Linked DNA regions of Homo sapiens: regions 2, 3 and 4 are each linked to region 1. Evidence: fine-mapped expression QTL. A gene starts in region 1. Each other region holds a variant in brackets. All regions are shown on one strand. Distances are from middle to middle.

Region 1 (5,578 bases):
AATTAGTATAGATGAGCAAAATTCAGCAGAGATTCAGTTCAGATACTTCCCAAAGTTAAGAACAACACATCTGTGAATTCCTGCCCATATGATTGAAGCCCCAAGGTGAGCTGGGGACAGAGGAACATGGCCTCTTTCCATAAATCCAGAGAGGAGGAAGCCTTGCCTGAGTCCCACATTGCTTCTCACTGTGGAAGGAGGCAGGCAGTTTTGTGTTTTTTAAACTTACTTTGTTTTTTGAGACAGAGTCTCACTCTGTCACCCAGGCTGGAGAGCAGTGGTGTGATCTCAGCTCACTGCAACCTCTGTCTTCTGGGTTCAAGCGATTCTCTGGCCTCAGCCTTCTAAGTAGTTGGGATTACAGGTGCACACCACCATGCCTGGCTAATTTTTTGTATTTTTTGTAGAGATGGGATTTTACCATGTTGGCCAGGCTAGTCTTGAACTCCTGGCCTTAAAGTGGTCCACCAACCTTGGCCTCCCAAATATCTGGGATTACAGGCGTGAGCCACCACATCCACCCCCAATTGTTCTTTCAGCCATCACAATTTCATTCTATCAAGCACTGTGGAATGCCCCTTTTACCTCCTTATAGAAACAACGTTATAACTCTTTGTGTTTCCAGGAACACAAAACACAACACTTGTATACATGAAGCTGACTAGCAAATGTTTGTTGAAAGTTTTGAATGACTTTCCAGCCAGTGATCTCTAAGACAAAATACACCCTCAGCCTTCATCCTTGCCATTTTGATGTTAATTTTAATTTGGCTTTGCTAATAAAAACATTTCGGTAGAGAAGTGAGACACCACAGGCCAAACAAGGATTTGTAGGAGGTTCTGGTGGATAATCCCTGGGCTACCTTCTAAAAACTAGGAATTGGGGGCCACATCTTTCTTTTTAGTTGTCGTTTGCCTCGTCTTTTCTTTTCCTGCTTCTCCCCATAGGTGTTTGTTTGTTTGTTTGTTTATCACTGCTTTTCCTCTCTGAATCTGTTTCTCTGTAACACCTTCTGGCCTTCCCCTCACATCTGACCCATCTAGCTGTTAAAAACCATCTATCTGGAAAGTCTCTTTCCTTTTGCAACACAGCTCCCCATGCCCTCTTCACTTTCCTCCTTTTTTAAGGATTCAGATTCAACTCTGTGGGATCCCTGTTCTGCTTTGCAATTACCTCGAGTTCAGGAAGTTCCCAAGGTACAACATAATGCAACATAATGTGTTTCCCAAGTGCCTTTGTTAGTAAGTTGTTTGGATTCAGAACAGATTTTCCCAGCAAAAGAAGGCTCTTAGTGGTGTTTACAGTCTAGCCTGCAACATCTTACTCAACATACTACACCTTTGTTGCGTCAAGTATTCAGTAAATGCTGGTGGTTGAGTATTTCTGTGTTTACCAGGTTGCCCTTCAGCACCGTGATGTTTGAGCTGAGCTGTTCTCTCCCTTGACAGAGAGAGCTCTTTCCGACCCCCGCCCCTCCGAGACGGAGTCTTGCTCTGTCGCCCAGGCTGGAGTGCAGTGGCGCGATCTCGGCTCACTGCAACCTCCGCCTCCCAGGTTCAAACGATTCTCCTGCCTCAGCCTCCAGAGTAGCTGGGATTACAGGTGCGTGCCACCACGCCCGGCTTTTTGTATTTTTAGTAGAGACGGGTTTTCACCATGTTTGCCACCGAGCTTTTTTATCATATGCAAAGCTTCTGCTTGTAAAAGTAAACACATGATCTTTCTTTAGCCCTAGCTTCGCAAGTTGTACTTCTCTCTACACAGTTCAACTGCAAGACACCGCAATAATTTTCTGAACACTTAGATGAAACAATAATTTTCACATGCTGATGAAAACTTAGCTGTAGCCCCGGGGAGGTTTGAGGCACATTAGGCTATTATGGTCTATAGGATAAGACCCACGGAGTAAGGGACGTAACCTTATTAAAACATCCTCTGCAGAGAAAACAGAATCTCTTTGATGGTAGGGGACAGATTATCTAACAGGTTGTTTGCAAGGATGAGGTTCCTAGCTGGCACACAGAAGGGCGCAGTATTAATGGTGAATGCAAGATGAATGAATGAACGGATGGATGGATGGCAAAGGGTCACAGGAAGACATCTGGGCACACAACTCTCATTGCTTCCTAAGGGCCTGAAGTCTGAGTGGGAAGGACTTCACCTCACAGTATTTCCTTTTTGTAAGGTCACCAGGAAAGCACAACTTTGAACATTTCTGTGACTTCGTTATTGCTTTGCAGAATTCAGAGAGAACAATGCCTTCATGACATTTGTTTTACTTTGCATCTTTCTTCTTTACTAAAGGTGGGTCAGTGGAGGTTTTATATTTCAGCTTTGAAAAACAAAGTATCCAGGACTATTTGCCCCAGGAGGCCAAGAAACCTCTTACAAGAACCTTAAATATTGTTGGTTGCCTCTGGGGGCTGTCCGCACCCTCGGGTAGCTTTGGGGTTGAGGTTTCCAGCGTTAGGTCGGGCTTGGAGTAGAGCCTGCCTCCCACGGGGGTGGTGGGTGTGGGCTGCACTTCCCGCAGCCACTTCAAACAAATCTCTGAGGACAGAGGGGCAGAGGGACTGCGTTCTAATACGGAGCTCCGAGGTATGGCTCCGTGAGGCTTGTGGGTACTAGCGGTCCTTTAGTGGGCGCTTTTCCCTCTCGGGGCCGGCCGACCACCCACCTGGGGACGATCCCAGGCAGGAACGCGTCTGCAAGAGCGCTGCCCTCCCGCGGCTCGCACGGGCCCCTTTGAGCGCAGCTCGCGGCCTTGCAGGTTGGGGACGCTCTCCAGTGGGAACGTCGAACGCACCCGGCGGGGCGGGGCGGGGCAGGGAGGGGCCGCTGTCCCTAGGTCCCTCCCTCGCACCGCCAAACTTTCCTTTGGCTCTGGACGCGTCGCAGGGGTCGCTGGAGAGGAGGCGCTCCGCCCGCCCGCCGCGTCCTCCGCTGCTTCTCCGCGCCCGGCTGGAGCCCGGCGCCCGGTCGCCCCGTCGCGCTCGACCCCGAGGGCATGCGGCAGCCGCAGGGGCCCCCGCTCCCGGGCTCGGCGGCGCGGGTGAACGTGAGCGGTGAGTGAGGGTCCGGGCGCAGGGAGGGTACCCCGAGCCGCAGTCACCAGGGCGTGCGTCGTGGGGAGGCCGGGGCGCAGCGGCGCCTGCAGGGCTCTAGCCTGCGGCTTTTCGGGGTTGCCTGGCGTGCAAGCCTGGGCTCCAGACCCACTCCAAACCCCGGGACAAGACTCTCCCGGCGGGTGTATGGCACAACTTGCTCTTTTCCCACCTTTTTCCCCGCTAGGAGCAAAAAGCAATCTAGATGCAAAATCGGCGTTGCGTCCGCTGCTGAGGGCTGGCGGGCTGGGCGCAGAGGCCAGGAGAGCGCCGCACGGGTTGCGTCTGCCTTTGCACACGTGGTTCTTTCCAAACTCAGTCTCATTGCCATCGATGGTGATTAGGAAACTGGGGTTCTCTCGTGAAGCCTAGGGATATAACATTTTTCAGCCTCCAGTTACATCTGGTACTGTGCTGTGTCCGCTGGGGAACAGCTTGAACCATGTGCAGGCTTCTAGAGATTCGGGAACTAGTAACTAGCAACACTGTCGGGGTTGTTTGTTCAGGGTATGCCCCCTCACCACCACGAGACAAAAGTGCTTTTGTTCTGTAGCAGAGTTACTTTATTGCTTTCCCTCAACAAGTTGCAGCTACACAAAATTGCTTAGAAATTCCGCACGCATGTAATTTGAGGAGTGACTGTGAATATTGGAAACAATTTAGTCTTATTAAGGTAATCATTAAAATGGCCCTGAAAAGCATTTGTAGGTTAGTTTTTATTTATTTATTTATTTATTTATTTATTTATTTATTTATTTATTTTTGAGACACAGTCTCGCACTATCATCCGGGCTGGAGTGCAGTGGCGCGATCTCGGCTCACTGCAACCTCCGCCTCCCAGGTTCGAGCGATTCTCCTGCCTCAGCCTCCCTAGTAGCTGGGATTGCAGGCGCCCACCACCACGCTAGGCTAATTTTTTGTATTTTTAGTAGAGACGGGGTTCCACTGTGTTGGCCAGGCTGATCTCGAACGCTTGACCTCGTGATCCACCCTCCTCAGCATCCCAAAGTGCTGGGATTACAGGTGTGAGCCACTGCGCCCGGCTAGGTCAGTTTTTTAAACTGAGTAATTTCCACGAAATGTTTCCCCCGTAATTTGTTATTGTCATTACAACGCTTTTCTTCCTCCTTTTCCTCCGAAAGTAGCATTACCTGGTCTTGAGATGCCGTTTAGAAATAAAGGGCTTTCTCACGGTTCCAACTTAGTCTGTATCAGAGAATAAAGTAAATGTCAATTACAGACAGACAATCAATCTCCTCTTTACAAATTCCATGTACCGCACAACGTTTCATTAATGCATGGACTTTTGTATCGCTGAGAAGAGTTGCTGGATTTTCCATTGATCCATCAACAGTTGCTAACCCTGCTTTCCATGGGCAGTGGATCTGATATTTAGTGGCCTGAGTCCAGTAAACAGAGTTTTCCTCTTTTTGGGACAGAAGTGATACGGTTAGAAACACACACCTTGGCTCTGTTAACCCCAGGCTTGTCTAAACAAACTGGACTATACTAAAAAGACGAGCGAGCAAACCCTGCCAGTCAGAGTTGTGTACTTGAGATAAGCTTCCAGAGTTGTCTCTTGTGCCTTGAGACAGCAAGGAACTAGTTATCCTGTGGAGATCTGGACGTCTAACTATTTGGACAACACTTACATTGATTGTCACTATCATATAACTAAGAAAATAGGTCATTTTGGCAAAAATTTTTTCTTTGTCTTTAGAATTTGAAACTTTGAGGTTTTGATTTAATTACATATGACACTCCTCTTGTCTAAACCTTTCAATTGCATTTATCAACTACCACTCTTTTTTTTTTTATCAGATCAGACCTATTTTAGATATCTTGCTGTTCTGCAAGATATTTGTTAGAACAGGCCTGCATATGTTTTCTATGAATGGAGACTGAATTTAAAACATTAAAGTATGAGATTGTTTTTCATGTGTGTTCACCGGAATCTGTTTAAGAAACTACAGCATGTTAACTCTCCATCTCATTTTTCAGAAACACACGTGCACAGTGGAAGAAATGCACACACAGCATTGTAGCCAGGCAGCACCCAGACACACACTCTCAACATCACTTATACACACATGCCTAAGGCTGGCTGCTTCTCCCCCAAGTTTCTCAGCCTGCTGCTGAGGAGCAGCAGTGCGTGATAACTTAAGACCCGCCTCTTATTTCTTTGGGCTGGGGCAAGGGGAATCACTATAACTGAAATGGGAATTACTGTACCTCAGATTACCCATTAGCCATTCTCCTTGGAGTATACATTAGTTCAAATGCTTTCTGGCCTGTGATTATACCCAACAGAGTGGTTAAGTCTGTTTGCAGGATTCTAGATGGCAGAGACCAGGCCCAAGGCATTATTAATGCAGTATAAATGGAAGACCAAGGCTTTGCAGTCAGACCAGCTTTTGTTCCAGTCCAAGCTTTGTGACCTTGGGCACATAGCTTCACCTCTCTAAGTCTTAATT
Region 2 (5,578 bases), 130 kb after region 1:
TGGCAATCTCATGGTGTTTACAGAAAGCCCAGTTGATATCACTGTGTCTGGCACATGGAATTAATACAGGTTGCTACTGGACCAGCACAGTTAGTAGACAGAAATGACTGAGGTAACAGCTATAAAACCTACCACAGGGTTGACCCACACTTAAGTCTCAAAAGTGGTCATTTTATTGTTGTTGTTATTGTTGTTGTTGGTATTTCCAGATGCTGCAGTTGAAGCCTAAGATGTTACCAATTCATCCCCTAAAAAATCCCAGAGAAACTGTGGGAAAGACTGGACCACTGGTTTTAGGAAACAGCCACCATTCATTAAGTCCCAGCTCAAAGCCAGGGACAGTGCCTGAAACTTCTATATGTTATTTATTCCTCTCAAAACCAACAAGGCAGGTGTTGTCCCTCAGGTGGACTTCCTGATGCTGCTAGTACCTCAGAGCCTGGTTGTCAGTTACATGCTAGTGTTGCAAAATTGTATTTTGTGTTTATTCATTTATTTTTGCACTATGCACACTGTTTAAAAACATAAATTGTTTGCATTAATGGATTTTCTTTCTGTGGAAAGCGTTAATAACAGTTACTATTTCATAGTGCGGTCATAAGGATTACATGAGTTCATGCATGTAAAATAAAACAGTGTCTTCCACAGGGCATCCACTCTAGTTTCTTTATAAATTGCAACTACTGTGATGATGATGATTGATATTGCTTTGGTTTATTTTTCCTTCTTACCAGCATACTCTTCAGCCCTGAGACTCGTAAGACAAATGTTACATGTTTGCTTCCTTTTCCAAATAAAGCTAATTTTTTTCTAATAATAAAAACAATACATGAAAAACAGAAAATAGAGACTAGCAATAAATAATATTAAACATGATTAATACCTTGAATAGATTATTTTATTAAATTAATATAACTTGTTTTTTAGAGCAGTTTTAGGTTCACAGCAAAATTAAAGCAGAAGGTATAGAAAATTCCCAAATACCTCCTGCACGATGCATGCACAGCTTCCCCATTATCAACCTCCTCCTCAGAAGGGTGCATGTGTTACAATCAGTGAACCTACACTGAGACATCATTATCACCCAGAGTCTATAGTCTACATTGCAGTTCACTCTTGGTGCTGTACATTCTATAGATGGATTATTTTAGCTCCTTTTTGTATACTTATATACACTCAAACACACACACACACACACACACACAACCATGTGTTCCCAAAACACATTTTAAGCTATCAAGAATTTAACCCAAGAAGCAGTCATTCATTTAACCACAATTCACTTATCCAACCGAAATTACTGAGGATTTATGATGTGCCCAGCACTGCCCGGCCTGAATAAGTGGTGAGCAAGGTTGTGCTGCCTTCTCGGGGCTTAGGGACGCTCTTCACAGCTTGAAGTGAGTGACTTTGAGAACATGCAGGATTTCTGGAGGAGAAACAAACCTGGCCAGCTGGTGGCAGGACAGACCTGGACGCTCCTTCACTGGACTGTTTTCCTCAAGAGCCACGAGGTCATTCTGACCCCGCTCCTCTCCCTTCTGCACACACTCCGGCCTCAGCCTTCCCCTCCACGCCTGCACACACACACATTAGTCAAGGGGGTGGGCCATCCATCGCTCCAATAGACTTTGCAAGAAGCTTTTTGGATTGTGTGAAAACAAATATCTTAATTTTTTAGGGAAACATGATTTTTTTTTCCCAGGGAAAAGCTGATTAAGTATTCACTGATTAAATATGAGAAAAGCATTATTTACGGTTGAAAATTAATCAGACTTAATCCATCTGGTGGCCAAGACCAGCCCTCATACTCAGCCATGTTCAGGGAACAATTGGGGCACTTTGAGCCACAAGGACTGCCGGCAAGCTCTGCCCAGATTGCTGGGGAAGGAGAGGTGGGTGTGTATTATTTATGTTCCCCTTTCAAAACAAACCCATCAAAAGAACAAAGCCTCCCTTCTGCTGGCATCGGCGGCAGCTCTGACATATGGCGCTCCCCAGTTCTTGCTGCCGAGGAGTGGGCGTCGGGGCTGCGTGAAGGTACTGCCTGCAGCCATCTGCTGGGTGCCAGTTCTTTCCACTCCGAGCTGCATTCTAATTGTGAAACAGGGCCACGGGAAGGAGGTGGGGAGGATGCTGGGATACAAGACACAGTTCTGTGACAGAGGAAATGTGCCCGTCCAGATTGCCATTTCTTATGCACGTGGTCCAAGTCCATTCCCCGGGAGGAGCATGTGATCCTGTGTGTGAGAAAAAAAGAAGGTGAAGGGCAGCAGTATGGAGCGAAGGGGGGACCAGGGAACAGGGGGGCGGAGACACTAAAGGGAAGCAGCTATTTATAGGTCCTGACCACAGTTTATCTCCAAATGATATTTTGATATTTCTAGCCTATCCCGCAGATGCCTTTGAAAATAGTCACAAAGAAAGCACCCACAGTGGGTGATAACTGTGTCTTCAGGAGCTATTTGGGTCACAGAATGAATGTTTAGTAAAATGTGATAGGACCATAATCCTTTTTTACTCGGGGATTTCTAAATGGAAGACAGGGAGAATCCATGCATGGCTCGTAGCATTAGTTTGGCTTTTTTGTGTGCAGTAAACTTTGCTCTGTGTCCCTGTAATCTGACAAATAGGGTAGGAGGCAGTGGCAGAAGTCACACAGCACTAAGCTGGGGTGTGTGTGTGTGTGTGTGTGTGTGTGTGTAATGCCTTGAAGCAATTAAACATACAATGTGTGATTTTTCATGTCACATGCTGCATGCTGTTATCCACAGATGACTTGCCCGTGTCTAGGCACTCTGCCACAGGAAAGATGCAAACACACATAGATACACATTTATAAAACCAACTGGAAACACGTATTTGTCCTTGGAGAGAATGAAATCCTCCAAAGACTGTTGTTCTGACTTGAGCCATGGAATTTATGACATTAAGCTACCATTCACTGGGTTATGCCAGGGTTTTCTTCTGCTTTATTTTTCTTTCTAAGACCCAGGAATCACACTGACATTACTGAAACCATCACTTCACACCTGGGAGAGTCACAAGACCAGACATTTTCTTCCTGCCCCCGGCATGCCTGGAGACCAAAGCCTTTCAAGGGTTGCTAATCTCTCAGCAAAGGCAGAATAGGTGGAGATGGCATTTCTCTAAGCTAAGAGTTTTTTAC[T/C]CCCAGACTTAGAGGGAAAAACATAGGAGAAAAAATTTGAGAAAACTATGAACACTTTTGTTTCCTAAGGGCATTTCTCTTTTAGGGTAAAAATAATATAATGGTCCCTGGCCTGTGCATCTACCATCAAGAGACGATGACCTCACCTCTACCATCTTCCCTGGTGGAACCCCTAAGAATGGCCCAGAGCTCACTGGGCCTTGTTTGTGGCATTGACATAAGGGGAGGTCTGGGTGGCTTTGAAATACGCCCTGTTTCTGCTATTTACTCAGTGAAGCGCATGGAGTTGTCTTTCTCCCTAGCCAGTGAATAAAATCTGAAAGTATAAAATTTAATTTGTAAGACTGAGAAGTACGAAATCTGATATTTGTATATCCCAGCAAGCGTTACCTAACACTAGATCAAGGCCGATTTCCAGAGACTGTCAGTATCTAAAAGGATGCTCTACCCTGGCCAGAGTAAAGCAGTTTTAATATCGAGTCATTTTCATTGAGCCTTCATGAGAAAATGAGGTGTGCTTCAGCTCCCGGAGCCTCAGAGTTGGGAAAGAGCAACTCCTTAGAGTAGGGGTTGGCAAAGTTTTTCTGTAAAGGAGCAGATAGTTGGCATTTTAGGCTTTGTGGGTGGAGGCAAAATTGAACAACTATTCTCACTAAAAGGCTTTTTTTAATTTTACAATTTCAGTTTAAAATGTAAAGACTATTCTTAGCTCTCAGGCTGTACAAAATTTGCGGCAGTCTGGATTTGACCAGCAGGTGGACTTTCAAAGTCCCTCTGCAGCGTTCTCATAGGTGGCTGTCTGCACTTAGCTTACGTTCCTCTAAGCCACAGAAAGCTCACCACCTCCCAAGGTCAATAAATCCGCTTTAAAGGAGGCTAAAATGGCTAGAAAGCACTTTTTTATATTGAATTAGAATTTGCCTACTGTATCTTATAACTGAAGCATTACTTTAAGAACTGATTTAAATCATTTTAAGACTGATTTAAATTTCTAGAAATAGTTTTTGATGGAAATCATTCTCTATTCCCTATTCTACTGCCTAGTAGCCATGTTCTAAAGTTGCCTTCGTGTGTTCCAGTCATTATGAAAATAAATTATTGTACTGTGCTGTAATGCAAATTGAAACCCTCAAGACCATTGGGGTTTACAAAGCTATTTGCCTTTATACTAAATATCTCCACACTGCAATGCTCCATGAATTCTTGTTTCTTTTTTTCTTTCAGTTTTTCTACCTGATTACTTATTACAAGGATGCTATCCATGTCTCTCCTTCTTCTTGTCTGTGTGCCTACTGAAACAGTTCACCTCCTCCTCCTAATTAAATGTCTCTAATCTTCCATGGGCTAAAAGTAGCTCTCCATGAGAAAAGATCCCAGGAGCCCTGGGGCCTTTGGTATTTGACTTGAGAACTTTCATCAATAAAGTATTTAAACCACTTGGAGCCTCCTGCTCGCTCTCTTCTCTCTCTCCCCTTCTCTCTCTCTCCCCCCTCCCCCCCTCTCACCCTCTCTCTCACCCCCCCTCACCCCCTCAATACTAGATAGGCTTTTGAGTAAATGTGAAAGTTTTCTAAAAGTCATTATCACCATCTGTGAAATTTGCTGACTATAAATTCCTTGAGGACAAGTGACTTTCTTTCTGAATTTCACAGCCTTAGAGCCTAGTCCAATGCTTCACATACAGTAGAAGTTCAATAAATGGTTCTGAAGGACTGAAAGAATAAGAGGTTTGAGGGTCGTGCTAGGCTGATTTGTTCCAGCATATCTCAATTTTTAGTGGAGGTTTATTGTGTTTGTTTTATTAACACTAACGTTAGGGCTATTAAATAATATCACTTAGAAACCAAAAGAAATTAACCCTCAGGGGTACAATTTGATATAAATAGAGGTAGGCAATTTTCAGTATGCTCTCTATTTCTACAGACCCAACATGGGCTCTCGTGAAACCTGGATCTATGGGATTTATGTAAATGTGAACAGGCTGCACCAGGCTCACAGACTGGCTGTGTAGAAGTGGTCTCTGTTTGTCGTTCAGATGTTGGGAGGTAACAGTGAGCTTTAACTAATTACACCTCAAATCACCCCCAGGAGGTAGGTAATGATTATAGATGTACTTGGCTGAGGTAACTCAGAATGTCTTAATAATCACTTAATAGAATCTTATCATGAGAAGCAAATTGCATTAAATAGGCAAATGAAGTTGACGGTGAGAAGCAGAGTTAGGAAATAAAATGCTATGGGGGGTTTTATATGGGAAAAATCCAATTAACACCTTTTTAAAAGAGTTGGCCCCATGGCTTTTTTCATATCGCTCACAGTACCTATCACAGGGTTATGCCCTGAATAAACACTTTCTCAATCGATGCTAAAGAAATTATAGGTAAAAATGAAGGAGGAAGTGGGAGGTGC
Region 3 (5,578 bases), 32 kb after region 1:
GTTTAACCTATTTATGCCTAGTGTTCCATTATTGGAATGCTAAGCTTGTGGGAGTTATTTATATCCTACTGCTCAAGGTCATTGACAAGTTCTGATTTTTCACAAAAGAAATTTGCAACCCCTGGCATAAATGGGTTAATAGAGTATTTCAGTACTCGGGAGAGATCACCATGGCCAGATGGTAGTTGAAGGTGATGGTCAGATTCTGTTTTTTTGTTTTTTGTTTTTTTTTTTTTGAGACAGGACCTGGCTCTGTCATCTAGGCTATAGTGCAGTGGTGCAATCTCAGCTCACTGCAACCTCCACCTCCTGGCCTCAAGTGATCCTTCTACCTCAGCCTCCCAAGTAGCTGGGATTACAGGCCTGTGCCACCAGGCCCGGCTAATTTTTGTAATTTTTTTAGAGACAGGGTTTCACCATGTTGCCCAGGCTACTCTCGAACTCCTGAGCTGAAGCCATCCGCCTGCCTCGGCCTCCCACAGTACTGGGATTACAGGTGTGAGCCACTGCACCTGGCCAGATTCCAGATATTTTTTAAAGGATTTACTGATGGGTAAGGTAGAGGGGAAGATGAGAGGTGGAGGAGAAGGTGGGGAATGTCATTAACCAAGATGAGGAAGACTGAAGAGGAGGAGGTTTTGGGGGAAGATTTGGTTTTGGACAAGCTAAATTTAGGAACCTATTAGACATCCAAGGGGTGTGGCAATTTTATTGAGTGGACAGTTGGATGTTTGACTCAGGAATTCAAGATTTAGGTCTGGGCTGGAGATGTACATTTGAGAGTCCTGGGGGGAAACTGGTATTTTAAATCACAGGACTGCGTGAGCTCACCATGAACGTGAATGTGGATATGAAGGAGAGGAGGACCAAGGATGGAGCCGTAGGGCAGGCCCTCCAGTGTAAGGAGGTCAGGAGGTAAGGGGCAGCCAGCAAAGGAGCCCTAGAAGGGATGGAAAACCCAGGAGACTCTGGGGAACTAGAAGAAAGAGAAGAAGGCAATCGAGGAGAGGAAGCATTAGCAGTGTTGGTACCCCTGAGAGGTGGTGTAAGACCAGGTGTTGCTGGCCTTACCAAAGTGGTGGACTTGTGCTGATCTTGAGATCATCACATTTGGTATAGCCAAGAGCCTGATTGGAGTAAAATTGAGAAAGAAAGGAAGAGCCTGGGCAACATGGTGAAACCCCATCTCTATGAAAAATACTAAAATTAGCTGGCCATGGTGGTGCATACCTGTAGTCCCAGCTACTTGGGTGGCTGAGGTGGGAGAACCGCTTGAACCCGGGAGGTTGAGGTTGAGTGAGCTGTGATCACACCACGGCACTCCAGCCTGAACAACAGAGTAAGAGCCTGTCTTAAGAAACAAAAACAAAACCAAAAAAAAAAAAAGGGAGGAGAGAAAGGTTGTGAGCCCTGTACCAAGAAGACATGTGGTTTCGTAGAATTTTCCCTTTGTTTTATTTTCTCTGAAGTAGGTGGCCTATTGCCCCACCTCCCCAGTTCTAATTCTGGGTTACAGGTAGAATTTGTAATGTGTGGGCAGACAAGAACTTTTGTGGTTTCACAGAACTTGTCTTGTAAGGCAGAGAGGCCGTTTCTCACTGTGTGTGTGGCTGCAGCAATGGGGACTGTTGCTGAGAGAGATTCAGGAGTACATTTCTGTCTACTCCTTATGAGAAGGAATTATAAAATGAATTATCAGGTAGCAGTTCATAGTGGAGGATACAGTATGTGTGGTGTGGTATAGAAACCCTCACAATGCCTCTAGGTCCTGAAACTGCTAGTAAGATTTGGGGGTCAGCAGACACAGAGTGTGATTGTTAAAATAATTTCAAACTGAGGATTTATTTAACAAATATTTATATAGTGCTTAATATGTGCCAAGCATTGTCCTAAGTGTTTTTACAAACATTAACTTATTTAATTCTCATGGAAACCCTGTGAGATAGGTGCTACTATTATACCCATTTACCAGATGGAGAAACTGAGAGTTTAAGCAGTGTGTCCAGTCACTCAGCTGTTAACCAAGACTCACTGCGCAGCTGGCCTCTAGAGTTCACATATTTACCACCATACTCTGTGGCTACTTGTGATTTATCTGGACTTTTTACGCTCATCTTTTTGTCCTGTCTTCTGCTTTGACACCGTTGACACATTGATAAGAAAATGGACAAGAACAAGAAAAAGAGGGTTCACATTAATCGGCATTTCCCCTCGAGCTGGAGAAGATATTGATGTTTTTGATAAAGAATGAACTTTGGTATTTACAGATAGTGTCAATGAACTGTGCTGCTGTCCCTGCTTAACTTGTAGGCATAATCATTTGCTTGGCTATGTGTCTTGAGAAATTACCCGCCTGCTTAAAAAGAAAACTTTCTTTTCTCATCATATTATAATATAGTATACAGCATGATAGAGACAAGGATTCCAAAATCCTAGGTGGAGAGAACAGGACCCTTTGTGAGACAGTCATGGTCACAAACTTCAGTTTTGTATGTAATTTTGTCTGCAACAGTTACGGAAGGGGTTAAAAGAAAGGAGCTGGGAGGTTTTGGCAGGTGTGGTATTGACTAAGAGAAAAACCAGAATGAACAATTAAATTTCCAAGTAGGATAAGAGAAGTCATGCAATTGAGATAAGACAACATTGGGGAATTGGTTAATGGAAGAAAGACAGTTTGGTGTCAAGGACCTCAGAAGTTCCTTAATGGTAAGACAGAGGAACCTGGTGGAAGACAGGAAGTTCAGGGACGAGGGAAATGAAACTCAAGAGCTAGGTGGTGTAAGGCTGAAGACTTCCAGCTCCTGATTTCTCTAGATAACAGAAAGATTTGGGTTTTACCCCCAATTCTTTCATTTTCTACAAGGGTGATCTGCAGCACATCAGCTCATCTTTTCTTGGTTAGATTCCCTCATCAGGTGGCATAGACCATCTTTAAGTTCTTTACAAGTTACAAAGTTCAATTATCCTTTATGACAGTTAGTAACCAAAGGTGGGAATGAAAAGGAAGAGTGGAGAGAGAGAGAGGGAGAGAGAGATTGAGAGAGAGAATATGAATCTTGTGGGGCAGCACCAAACATTTCTGTG[G/A]ATCCAAGCACAGAGCCTCTTTCCTTGACAGCAGCACCTACCACAGTATCTTCCTAGGGAGAAAGCCCCCAGTTCCCTACATACTACATGTAAGAATTCAATTGCCTGAAACAAGCATCTCCCAAATGATAGTATATTAGAAAAATCAACAGTGCTGGCATTAACCATCATCTAATCACTGGTTCTGATTATGTGGAGATGAATAGCTTAATACTCATGTTTTTAATAATTGGAGGATTTAAATGTCTTTATGATAAAATGCTAAACATTTCCATTTACTCCTTGATACATATTTTGTAGGAAAGATTCATTTAAGATTAAATCCATCCAGGTGTGGTGGCTCACGCCTATAATTCTAGCACTCTGGGAGGCCGAGGCGGGCGGATCACTTGAGGTCAGGAGTTTGAGACCATCCTGGCCAACATGGTGAAACCCCGTCTCTACTAAAAATACAAAAATTAGCTGGGTTTGATGGTAGGCACCTGTAATTCCAGCTACTCAGGAGGCTGAGGCAGGAGAATTGGTTGAACCCAGGAGGTGGAGGTTGCAGTGAGCCAAGATGGCGCCCCCGCACTCCAGCCTGGGTGACAGTGAGACTCCGTATCAAAAAAAAAAAAAAAAAAAAAAAATTAAATCCTAAAGTTTCTTACGAACCCTCTTCTTTTACATATTAGAAAGTCAGTCTCTAAGTACATATTAACTGTCTATTAAACAGTATCTAAGAGGTACATGGTTGCATGAATTCAGTGAGCTTAATCTTATTTCAGAAGAGGAAAGGATGGACAGGGGCTGTTGAGTGTGGAGACGGCTTCTTAATGGGCTGGGATGTAATCTGGAAGGATAGGTGGGATTTGCATGGGCTGGAGGAAGACACATTCTAAGAGGGAGAAATGGCATACTCAGAAGTGTGATGATAGAAACATTTAAAGCTTGTGCATTACCATGAGGAAGGCCCCACAGAGTACAAATACTTGCTGTGGTGCGGTGGAAAAATAGCTCACCTGTGAACCAGCAAAGTTTAGTTGGCTATCCTCTTTGGAAGGAGAGTAGACCAGATGACCTTTGTGTTCCTTTCCAGCTTTGGGATTTTGGTTGAACACAAAAGCTAACAGCATGGGGATTCAGACTCTTTCCTTGAGGGTAGTGGTGGTAGTGATGATGGTGATGTGAGTTTTCAATCTGTGTGTGCATGATTGGAAAGGCATCAAGGCATCATGTTCCCGTTTCAGCAGCCCTGAGGCAAAATGCTTGCTCACTTCTGGGTTAGAATGTGTGATGGGGCCCTTTATGTGAAAAAAGTTGCTTATTGAATGTTCTCATTGAAAAGACATCGGAGACATACGATCCTGCTTTCCAAAGAGCACCAAGGCCCTGCCTAAGAAAGGGTTTTGAAATCTTACTTGTCAACAAGCCTAATCAGCTACAGCAACCAAACACACAAGAAACCCCACATGGAAACGTCTAATTTATTGTCAAACAACACACCATGTGAACTGTGCACACAGAAATGTTTTGTTATTTCCCAGAAAATGGGCTGGACTTTGCTTTATTTTGCAGTGTCTTAAAATACAAGAGAAAAGAAAGAGGGAAGGGACTTGCAAACCATTCTTTTGAAGTCTTCCATGAACCCTCCTGTCCTTTAGTGATGTTTTTCAAACTGTAAGTTTTGATGCACTGATGAGATTGTAAGCAACACTTTTTAAAATGACATAAAAAGAAGAGAAAATGTCAGAGTGTGTTGCATTTAACAGGTATCAATATTGTTTTATAACCTTTCTTTGCGTGCCTGTGTGTGTGCTGGGTTGTGATATAAAATGTATTTCCTATCATGAGTTATCGTCAAGAACGTTTGAAAAACCATGATCTTGAGGGTCAAGGTTTATTTTTCTGCCAGAAAGCACTGAACTCTTTTAAAATATGAAACATTATCGTTGTTAAGGGACTTAGGGCTTGTGGTAATTAAAACAGGGAGCTGGTTGTTTTTCTTCTCACTTCTTCCTCCCTCCTCTCCACTTAGATTGATGCTAAATCATCCTCTTTTGTCTCTTAGGGGAGAGAGGAAGAAGGCAAAGTAGCAGTAAGCAACGAAACGATAGCTCAAGTTCTCATGCTAGGAGGAAATGGGTGAAAATTAAGTACCATAAAGAGCCTTGCCAGAGTACTAATAATAATCACACATGATGTTTCTGCAGTACTGTGTCTTTTTCAGTTTTAATACACTGTTCTCTTTGGTCTCATGGAAATCCTGCCAAGCAAGTAGTTAAGGTATTATTATCCGATTTTCCTGCAACTCCCCTAGATGTATCCTATACTCAAGCTATAATGAATTATTTGCGCTTCCCCCATTTTGTCTCTTTAAGCCTTTGCAGATGTTGGGATACCTTTCCCCTAGTTCTGCCTGGGAAACTCCCATTCACCTTGTAAGACCTAACTCAAAGGTCTATCTTCTTTGAATCTTCCTTTGCCCTACTGGAGTAAATCTGATTACTGCCTC
Region 4 (5,578 bases), 100 kb after region 1:
TAATGTTGAATAGAATGATAATATTGAGCATCTTCAACTTGTTCCTGATTTTAAAGGAAATAGTTGTAAGTTTTATTATTAAGAATATTATCTGCCATAAATTTTTGTTTTTGACCTTTATCCTGTTAAACGAGTTACCTTCTTAATTATAATTTTCAGTGTTTCTACCACAAATTAGGTTGCTTTTTCTCAAATGCTTTTTGCCGTATATTAAAGTTATAAAATTGTCAGCTGGGTGCGGTGGTTCACGCCTGTAATCCCAGCATTTTGGGAGGCTGAGGCTGGCAGATCACCTGAGGTCAGGAATTTGAGACCAGCCTGGCCAACATGGTGAAACCCTGTCTCTACTAAAAATACAAAAATTAGCTTGTTGTGATGGTGCGCCTCTGTAATCCCAGCTACTCAGGAGGCTGAGGCAGGAGAATCGCTTGAGCCCAGGACGCAGAGGTTGCAGTGAGCAGAGATCATCCGACTGCACTCCAGCCTGGGTAACAGAGTGAGAGTCTATCTCAAAAAAAAAGGAAAAGGAAAAGAAATGATAAAATTGTCTTCTTTCTCTAATCTGTTAATATAAGGAATTGCGTTAATTAATTTTATAATGTTAACCCAGCTTTGCATTCCTGGGATAAACCCAACTTAGTGTGATGGACTTTTTTTCATACCCTGCTGGATTTGGTCGATAATAGTTTGCTTAGAATTTTGGCGAATTTGCATGTGAATAAGATTGGCCAATAATTTTCCTTTCTAGTACTATTTAATTTGATTTTAGGATCAATGTTATACTGATCTCAGGATGAAAAGGAAGAATTTAAGAATGGTGAAAAAGGATGTTAAATTAAGTTTCAATTGAAGCACCAAGATTCAAAAAATATAAACTTTCAAAGTGAAATGTTAGACCAAGATTGCCTTTCCAAAGGAAATATCCAGGAATCATTCCTTCACACTAACAACTCCTTGCCCTCTCAAGCAAATAAATGACTAGAAAGGGGAGTTTAATGGAGATTTGAAGAGGATTTCTTTGGAAAACATTGCTAGTATGAACTGAGCCAACTGAGAAGGGATTCAAGTTTTCCCTGTGGAAAGCTCCATATGCGTCCTCTCCACCTAGGCAGGTCAGCAGACTTGTGTCCAGCTCCCATCTAGAACACAGAAGGCAAGAAAAGGATAGGCTAAGTGGTTTGGTGGTGGATTGAATGAAAGATGCTGCTGGGCTTGAATCAGCTCGTAATCCCCCAGTTTGCCTGGACAAAGCAGTACGATGGTTTCCTTGGCTAGGTATACACAAAAGAGCTGGGAATTGGGTCATCATAGATGAACTCAGAGTCAGGTCAATTGGAGAGGTGAACAGGTTTCATTACAGCATGAGCTAGAGGTGGATACTGCTTTCCTTGGCAGTAAGGGGTAGTAAGTGAGCAACTTCCAGAACACTGTGCATTCATTCAGATCAAAGGAAATCAGCAGTGATAGGGTAAGAAAATAGGTTCTCCAAAGTACACATGAAAGCATTCCATAAGAGAAAGAATCAGCTTCAAATACCTTGCTGATACCAGTTAAGTAAGGACTTTCTGCCTGTCTTCCTTCCCCATCTCCCAGACCTGAAGAGGATCAGAAACAGCAGTAAATGGATGGGGGATGTATGAGTTATTAATTGTCTTTCAGCTCATTCCACCCTTTTATTCCCTGCTTTTTGGTGCTTGGACAGGAACCCTGGAAATCATTTTTCTGCTTTGCCAGCTATTCCCTGTTGGGCTCTGCCAATTGGGGTGCTAGAGGGAAACTCAAAGGCTGGAGGAGCAGAAGGAATGTGCTCCTCCCAGTTGCTTGCTTTGGACTTCCTTTCTGCTCACAGTTCTTGTGAGTATCACTCCAGCACTGCACCTTCACTGCATTGGTGGTAGTTCCTTCCATAGCAGCAGCTGATCCAGTTCGCTATTTCTACCAAACTTGCAGGACCAGACTTGTCACATTCACCCCTTTAACCTGAGACATGACTATGTGCTGACCAGTGCCCCCTGTTCAGAGTCCGGGCCCCAGCCTCCCCCGGCTGCTCTTCTGAGCTGAGACACCACCATCAGTCAATCATCTCCCCCTCCTCAGGGTCAGGGTTTCAGCTCACCAGGATCCTTTGTCTCAGCTTTTAGATTTCAAGAATTCCAATCTCTTCCTTTTATTTCTTCAGCCCTGGGAATGATAGCCATTTCCTCAAATGATTGCTTATGACGCCTTAGCATTCTCTTCTCTCTTCTGTTACCTGGTTAGTAGCTTTATATCTAGTTAATAATTCTTTATATTAAATTATTTCTCAAATAACTGGTGTGTTTTCTGTCCCCTGACTAGTATAGGGGAGGGTGATTGACAAGGTGAGACAGAAAAAAGGAAGAGATTGGATTTTATGTCTTTCCCCCAAACAGGTGGCCTCCCTGCCATAGCCCTTAGCTGGGGGAAAAGAAGGTAGAGTGAAGAGAAGTCTTAACTTTTAAATTGAAAGCCTGGGTTTTCAGGAGTTGAACAATGAGAACACATGGACACAGGAAGGGGAACATCACACACTGGGGCCTGTTGGGGATGGGGGATTAGGGGAGGGATAGCATTAGGAGAAATACCTAATGTAGACAACAGGTTGATGGGTGCAGCAAACCACCATGGCACATGTATACCTATGTAACAAACCTATACATTCTGCACATGTATCCCAGAACTGAAAGCATAATTAAAAAAAAAAAAAGCCTGGCTTTTTATGTCAAGTTACTAATTTGAGTCTGGGTTTGTGTCTGAAAGTGAATAAAGGTATTTCTATTACTCAAGAACAACTATAAAAGTGAATATTTTATAGTTATTTTATATAGGGCTTGCCTGAGTTTTCATCCAATGGCAGGGGAAGGATTGCCTTCACTGAGAAGATTTAAAGGGGCCATAGGAGACAAAACTAATAACTTTCTGGATTATATCCCATGAATCCTGCTTCTTTAACATACTGGTAAATCTTCAGCTGTAATTGAAACGCCTTGTAAAACTCACAAATAAAACTCTCTAAGCCTAGGATTTATTTTGTGGGAAGATTTTTACTGCTGGTTATACAGGCTTTCTATTTCTTTTTTGGTCAGTTTTGGCAAATTATATTTTTCTAGGAATTTGTCCATTTAATGAACATTTCCAGACTTATTGGATAAGGTTTTTCATTTTATATTTTTATTATCTTTTTGACCGTTTGTATTCTACTTTCTCTGCTAATATTATTTGTGCCTTATCTCTTTATATATTTTTTTAGTTTCCTTATACAGTCTTTCCAGAAGTTAGTCTCTTCAAAGTGTTAATTTTTGGCTTCGTTGATTGTACTTATTGTATCTATTATCTAATTTAAGGTTGTCATTTCCTTCTTTTTATTTTCTTTGGGAATTTTGTTTTCTTTCTACCTTCTTATGTTTGATGCTTAGCTTATTAATTTTATGTTTAAAGTGGCATTTTTTCCCAAATAAACATTCAAACCTATAAATTCGTATTCATAC[A/G]TACTTAAGAGAACCCATTGCCGTCCTCTCCCACAGCTGATTTCTCACCTGCATCCCTTGGTCTGAATAAATGCACTGCAAACTGCACATTTTTAGTGTAGTTGTCATACAGTTCTTAGCTTTTTATATTTTCCTGCACAATTTCTTTTTGACCCATGAGTTAAGTAATATGTTTTCTTTTCATTTTAAAACTCTTTATTTGAAGCATAATATAGAAAATGTAAATATACACATTTAATACAGAAAGTGTACGTGTTATAAGTGAATGGTTTGAAAAACTTTCATAAACTATACACACCTGTGTATCCACACATTAGAATTTAAACACAGAGGTCAGGCATGGTGGCTCATGCCTGTAATCCCAGCACTTTGGGAGGTCGAGGCAGGTGGATCATGAAGTCAGGAGTTTGAGACCAGCCTGGCCAACATGGTGAACCCCGTCCCTACTAAAAATACAAAAATTAGCCAGATGTGGTGGTGTACACCTGTAATCCCAGCTACTCGGGAGGCTGAGGCAGGAGAATCACTTGAACCCAGGAGGCGGAGGTTTCAGTGAGCCGAGATCGTGCCACTGCACTCCAGCCTGGGTGACAGAGCGAGACTCCATCTAAAAAAAAAAAAAAAGAATTAAAACACAGAGATATGAGCACTTTTTTTTTGTTGTTGAGGTGAAATTTACATAGCATAAAGCTAACCGTATGAAAGTATACAATTCACACTTTAGTGGCATTTAGTACATTCACAATGTTATGTAACTACCACCTCTATCCAGTAACAACACACTTTCATCACCCCAAAAGAAAACACTCTATTCATTAAGCAGTAATTCCCCTCTCCTCCCAGCCCCTGGCAACCACCAATCTGCTTTCTGTCTCTATGGATTTTTATGTGATGTGTTTTAAATTTCTAATTGTATGAAGATTTTTAATTATAATTTTCACTTTTTTCTAACTTAATTGTGTTGTGGTCTTTTGATACTTATTCTTTGAATTTGTTGAGATTTGATATTTGCTTTCTGCCCTAATTCACAATTAGTTTTTACAAAGGTAATATGTGATTTTAAAAAGAATGTATATTCCCCAGTGGTTGAATGCAGTGCTCTATATAAGTCTTTTATATCAAACTTGTTAATCGTCTTGTTCAAATCTTTATAACTTTACTGAATTTTTTGGCTGTTTGATCTATCAGTTACTAAGAAAGACATGTTAAAGCTCCCACTCTGATCACAAATTTGTCAATTACTCCTTGAAGTACTGTCAGTTTTTGCTTAGTGATAGACTTTTCAGATAACATGGAGAGGCGCTAATCAAAACAGAAACTTCAGATGTGCTAAACGTGCAAAAAGACCATCAGCTGTGTCAGTTTCTTTCTGCCGTATTAGCCTAGTTTGGTCAAAGTCTTCCCAGAATAAGGAAGCCCTGGCTCTTGCACTCTCTCCCCTTCTCTTTTCCTTCTTCCCGTTCCAGAAACGCACATGAGTGAAATCAAAGGAATGGTCTCAGAAGATGCTGAATAAAAATACTCTAGATCCTTGGAATTTCCTTATTTTATTTCAGCAGTGGAACTGAAAATATCTTTAAGTTATTGTTTCACTAATTACCATAGAACTTCATAATTTCCCATTTTCCACAAGGGTCACTGTGCACCAAGGATGGTGCTGGACTGAGCATAGGCTGAGTACTGTTGGCATCTCATGTCTGCTATACTGCCTCTTCATCAGGCAGTGAATGATGAATTGAGACTCAGTCCACTTGCGGGGAAAGGCCCCTATCATCCCACAGCTGAATTCACTCTGTTTACTGCTACTTTAGCTAGAACAAGAAAGAGAAGCATATGTGGTGAGTTATTGAACTTAGTTCAGCATCTTTATTCCTCATTATCTTCTACATCTAATTCAATTGCTAATTGAAATAATTACTGTCTTTACCTGGTAGAAAATTATATTGTGCTTGTAAGACAAGCTGACTGATGTGCTTTGAAAAAGCAGCAAAACATCTTTCACCGTGCTTGGATTCATTTCCCTTAGCAGATGATTTCAGTAACTTCACATCATTTTTCATCTGGCAAGTCAA

Direction of the effects. Positions count from the first base shown, and alleles are read on the strand shown. Sizes are in standard deviations (SD) of each study's normalised expression. Not every link is listed here.
For the expression in prefrontal cortex of the gene that starts at base 2,875 in region 1, allele C in region 2 goes with a higher level than allele T (small effect, 0.35 SD a copy in ROSMAP).

The links. PIP is the estimated chance that this variant, and not a neighbour inherited with it, causes the effect. A credible set is the group of variants that fine-mapping cannot tell apart.
Region 2: its variant is the best candidate, but not a certain one, in a credible set for the expression of LPAR3 in prefrontal cortex (ROSMAP, PIP 0.58).
Region 3: its variant is the best candidate, but not a certain one, in a credible set for the expression of LPAR3 in whole blood (INTERVAL, PIP 0.52).
Region 4: its variant is the best candidate, but not a certain one, in a credible set for the expression of LPAR3 in ileum (GTEx, PIP 0.79).

What each region holds. Positions count from the first base shown.
Region 1 is chr1:84,890,503-84,896,080 of GRCh38, reverse strand. It overlaps LPAR3 (lysophosphatidic acid receptor 3), which reads left to right and starts at 2,875. Exons shown (of 3, transcript NM_012152.3): 1 at 2,875-3,065.
Region 2 is chr1:84,755,861-84,761,438 of GRCh38, reverse strand. No RefSeq gene overlaps it. Among named protein-coding and RNA genes, the nearest start is that of SSX2IP, 68 kb to the right of the region's middle. RefSeq lists an enhancer at 4,231-4,802. The variant T/C (reference allele first, on the strand shown) is at 3,170.
Region 3 is chr1:84,858,870-84,864,447 of GRCh38, reverse strand. All of the region lies in intron 2 of LPAR3 (lysophosphatidic acid receptor 3), which reads left to right. Among named protein-coding and RNA genes, the nearest start is that of LPAR3, 32 kb to the left of the region's middle. The variant G/A (reference allele first, on the strand shown) is at 3,085.
Region 4 is chr1:84,785,584-84,791,161 of GRCh38, reverse strand. All of the region lies in intron 2 of LOC102724892 (a long non-coding RNA gene), which reads left to right. Among named protein-coding and RNA genes, the nearest start is that of SSX2IP, 98 kb to the right of the region's middle. The variant A/G (reference allele first, on the strand shown) is at 3,507.